Linked DNA regions of Homo sapiens: region 1 is linked to region 2. Evidence: fine-mapped expression QTL. A gene starts in region 2. The other region holds a variant in brackets. All regions are shown on one strand. Distances are between the middles of the regions.

Evidence for each region.
Region 1: its variant is fine-mapped to the expression of C5orf34 in whole blood (INTERVAL, PIP 0.96).

What each region holds. Positions count from the first base shown.
Region 1 is chr5:43,484,094-43,486,593 of GRCh38, reverse strand. The region is part of intron 1 of C5orf34-AS1 (C5orf34 antisense RNA 1); the gene reads right to left. It also overlaps a transcript of TMEM267 not described here. Among named protein-coding and RNA genes, the nearest start is that of C5orf34-AS1, 1.4 kb to the right of the region's middle. RefSeq lists enhancers at 2,400-2,500, 1,855-2,500. The variant G/C (reference allele first, on the strand shown) is at 1,113.
Region 2 is chr5:43,514,015-43,516,514 of GRCh38, reverse strand. C5orf34 (chromosome 5 open reading frame 34) reads left to right here and starts at 1,367. Exons shown (of 13, transcript NM_198566.4): 1 at 1,367-1,709. It overlaps LOC124900190 (a long non-coding RNA gene), which reads right to left. Exons shown (of 3, transcript XR_007058764.1): 2 at 1-2,322. RefSeq lists an enhancer at 1,600-1,759.

The DNA of each region.
Region 1 (2,500 bases), 30 kb after region 2:
CATTTTGTTTGTTTTTACTGTTTGAGATACGGTCTTGCTTTGTCACCCAGGCTGCAATGCAGTGGTGCAATCATAGCTCACTGCAGCCTTGAACTTGTGGGCTCAAGGGATCTTCCCACCTCAGCCTTCTGAGTAGCTGGAACCACAGACATGTACCACCATGCCTGGCTAATTTTTAAAAATTTTTTTTGTAGAGACAGGAATCTCCCTATCTTGCCCAGGCTGGTCTTGAACTCCTGGCTTCAAGCTATCCTCCTGCCTCCGTTTCCCAAAATGCTGGAATTACAGGTGTGAGCCACTGCACCCAGCCTCTTTTTTTTTAATATGCAGAATTGTGCATTTGTTCACTTGCTATTTGGTCCCTTTACTCCAAGTATTTTTCAGTAGAGCTATGAGACAAGAACTACATCTCAAAAACAAAAACGGAGACAAGCAACATTGTAAACTAAAAATCAGGCACTTTGGCAAAGACTGTATCTAAACTGTCTCATGAACCAGATACTTTCTTTTGAACACAGGAAAAGATTTATGCTGCAAAGTGTTTAACAGAAATGAGCTCACCAAAAGTGCTATTTATTATAAGCTTGTCTATTAAGAAAGAACAAAACCAAATATCTATAATGACGTCAAGATTACACCAAACACAACCAGAAATGTTCTAATTTTCTGATTTCTATAAAAGACCTGGCTCTTCAAATAAACGGGAAGCAGTAACAGAGAAAACGAGAAAAATGGGGAGAAGAGTGTAGATCAGGAATGATAATGTCACTAAGTTAAAGGGGCACAATGCCTTTTTTTTTTTTTAGTTCCTCTGACACTGGATTCCTTCACATTTCAATTCTCAAACAAGTACCATTTCCTCAAAAGGGCCTTCCTTACTACCTGACTAAAGTTAGCATCTCCCAAGTCTATTACATCACCCTATTTACTTCCTTTATAGTACTTATTACAATCTGTCTAGCTTGTTTCCTTGTGGCTCACACCCTCCACTAGAACTTGAGCTCCATAGTCATTCTGTAGCACACTGAGAGCACTCTGTTTGTATAAATGAATCAGTAAGCTGGGCACAGTGGCTCACGCCTGTAATCCCAACACTTTGAGAAGCCAAGGAG[G/C]GGGGAACACTTGAGCCCAGGACTTTAACACCAGCCTGGGCAACATAGCGAGATGCCCATCTCTACAAAAAACTTAATTACCTGCACGATGGCATGTGCCTGTGGTCCCAGCTACTCCAGAGGCTGAGGCCGGAGAATCCCTTGAGCCCAGGAGGTCAAGGCTGCAGTGAGCTATGATTGCACCACTGCACTCCAGCCTGGGTGACAGAGGGAGACCCTGTCTCAAAAAAAAAAAAAAAAAAAAAAGGAATAAACATCTACAGGCAGTAGACCGACTACAGAGAAAAGAACTACTATTACATTGTTTGGGTTTGCATGAAGCCATCTATGTTGTTCCTCAATAGCTCCATAAAGCCTAGATTATAAGACTTTGTACCACACTGCCAAAAGGGTAATGCCAAATTATTACTGCATTCAGAAGGAGAAAATTTGTCCTTAACATGGCTAAAAGCACTCAAAATTATAAATACATTTGCTGAAAGATACTTTAAATTCTCATTTAAGGTGTGTGGGAGTTAAAAGGTGTTTAATTTTCCCTGTCAGTTGGGTGTTTTACATTGGCTAAGAACCAAGACTGTGACAAGAAATGAGTTCTATGATTGAGAAACTCTAAGATTCTGGGGGTGGCCTAGGAGTTTACTTTGAGATTGAAATTTATTTTCTATGGTCAACTGTATAATTACGATGATACCACCCCTTGCTTTCCATCTGACACTTGGTTTGAGAAACTGTAGGTAGGAAAGGGAAAGAAGAATGTCCCTCCTTGGGCCTCTTCTTTTGGGCCTGTGCTTCCTAGAGTCAAATGTCAAGCTGGTATTTCCTTGGTGCTAAGAGCAACCACCACTCTGAGGCAGAGACGGGATGGGACCTAGCCAAAGTCCCAGTAAACAAACTGTATCTTGTAAGCGCAATTTAATTAGGGTCAAACTATTCTGTATGGACTTGCTTTTTCGACTTCTGAGGATTTAGTAGTCATGATTAAGTGCTGTCACGCTACTGCGATCTACAAACAGTAGCTCCACAACATCCGCCCGCATCGTGGCAAAGAATTATCAAGAAATCCCCAAGGGGGCGGTGAGGAGCCGCCGGTCGGCCAGGTCGCCCGGTCCCTCAGTCTGGTGAAAAGCTCCGTTGCCCACCCTGAGGGCTTCGCGGAAGGAAGTTGGCCGTATCGCTGCACCTTAGAGATGCGACGGCCGAGGCTCCCAGCTCAAGCTTCTGGTAGTAAGGCCTGTGTGCCTGGCATTCGGGGAGGCCACTTTTCTATCCCCAGCTTCCGGGCCACCACTTGGGTGCGTCGTGGGGATGTCGGCAGCTACGTTTGCGGCACAGCTCCGGCTAAACTGAAAAACGAATCCTCAGGTTTGACAAAACTAAACTAAAAAGAC
Region 2 (2,500 bases):
AGTGCCGCATTTAACCATGATCTTAGGATGGGCTCCCTGCATGCTCAGAGCCCTCTTTACCCTTGGGAAGTGAGCACACACAGTGATTTTATGGATTTATACACATGCCCATCTGAGGCTTTCTTCCTTTTTCCGGTGGAGTGTATCAGAAAAATCATACTTCATCACTTTTGTCTCTTAACCGGCATGCCCAGGAAGTTGCTTCTCTCTGGGGCCTGCATTCAATTAACATTTTGATGTTAACAGGTGTGGGCCATCAGGAAATGGCCTTTCCCTGGCGCTGCCAAATTTTCATTTTTAGAGAGGCCATGTGATAATTGCTGAACCATCACCCAACATTTCTAGTGGGTGGGTGGCAGGGGAGAGCCCTCTCCTGCCTTGCTCATGCCTAACTACCTGTAACAGATTCAGTTCGCCATTTTATAATGTATGAGCATGATCTGTGGTCCCCCAAAACAATTACAGTAGTGACATCAAAGATCAGTGATCACACAGATCACTCTAACAGATACAAAAATAATGAAAAAGTTTGAAATATTGTGGGAATTACCAAAATATGTCAGAGACACAAAGTGAGCACATGATGTTGGAAAAACATGGCACCCATACACTTGCTCCATCAAGGTTGCCTCAAACCTTCCATTTGTAGTAAACTCAGTATCTGCAAAGCACAATAAAATGCACAATAAAACAAGGTATGCCTCTCTATGCTCTCACAAACCTCTGTATTTTATCTTAGAAACACTCACAACTGTAATAAATGATTGTTTATTCTTTCTTTCCAGTTAATCTCTAGCTCTGATCCTCACCCGCAAAGAACTGGGCCACCTTCCCTGCTTTATCCCCACTATGCCTAAACACACAGTGAGTGTTCCATAAACACTTGTTTAGTGGCAATAAATATAGCAGACACATTTATTTGCCACTTTATAAGGAAAAAAGGTGCAGATACATAGACGACCTATTTTCTGATACCAAATTAGGAAGAGTTCTCCATCTTTGGCCAAGTTTTTTTTTTTCTAAACAGCTTTACTGAAGTATAATCGTTTTTTACCTTATTTAAAAATAAGTACCACTCCACTAAAACGCGCTCTGTGGTTAGTTCTCGGCTGGACCGTTCAAAAGGCTGATCCTTACAGCCTTTATTATTAATACAACCAGGTCGGGACTGCTTTTGCGTGGGTCACCAGAAGTAAAAAATCAAAGAGGAGCCAACCCCATTCCGAACAAGGAAACACCCGTCCCCTTCCTACACCAATTCCTGCTCCGCCCTTCGTAGGGAACGCAGCGAGGGCAGCCTCCGGAGTGGAGGGGCGGGACTTCCGGCCCTTCCTGTTGTGGAGGGGCGGGACTTCCTGTCTTCCCTGTTGCGGAGCTCTGAAGCGGCTCCCTGAGGGCGCTGGTTTTGAACTGGTCTTGTGCGGTTTGCGCTTTCTCTTAGTGGTTACAGTTGGCGCTGTCTCCGCTTTCCTGTTTCGTGGCGGGCATCTTGGCCAAAACACTCTCCCTGCCACCTTATTCCTCTAGGGTTGTGATTTTTTTCTTTCACCAAGAAATATCACTCGCTGGTAATTTGTCAAACTGAAGAAACCCCTGAAGAAGCAGTGGTGGGCAGGCGCCGACGCTGCGGCTTCCAGAGCATTTTGGCAAATCAAAGCCAGGGACCGTTGCTGGGCCTCATTTCCGCAACTTTTCGGCTCCGAACTGCTGTGAGTGGAAGACTTTTGGTGGTTGTTTTGATCAGGCTCCTTCTGTAACTAGAGACTATAGCATTTTGAAAGAAATGAGATTCTCATTCATGTCAAGAACAGACTTGTGGATTTTTGAGTGTTAAACATACCCTGACGTAATGTGCTGGGTGATGAGAACGCAAGCGGGAATGAGACTGTAGAGATGAGAATGGCAGTGTGGGTTGGAGCCGGGTTATGGTTTCCTATGGTATGCCAAGAACCTTAGTCATTACACTGTTTGTTGTGTATGCTTGATTATTTAAAATTAGAAAACCGCCTCAGTAAAGCTATTAAAAAAAAGACCTGACCAAAGATAGACTATTTTTCCCAAATTGGAATCAGAAAATGTCTTCCATCTATGTATCAGCACCCGTTTTTTCCCCTAAAATACCAAGTAGACATACCCGATATATACGTGTGTGTTTATATATATATCTGTAATCTATATTGCCATTTGATAAGTACGTAAACAGGTGATGTAAAGCACTTGGTATGGTGTGACTTGTGGAAAGTTACCTATGTCATCAATACTAGAGATGGATTGGAGAGAGAAGAAATTCCAGACAGTTGCAGGAGTTGGAGAGTCTATGGCCTGAAAAAGAGAAAGAGGTAGAGAGAGTCAGGTTCCAAAGACAGAAAATCAACAGGACTTGTTACAGGGGCATGGAGTGGAAAGTCAAGTTTTAGAATATTGGCTGCTAACAATGAGACACCATTAATTCAAATTGCAAATTCAAGAGGAGCAGTTTACTTATTTTTCATCATTCAAA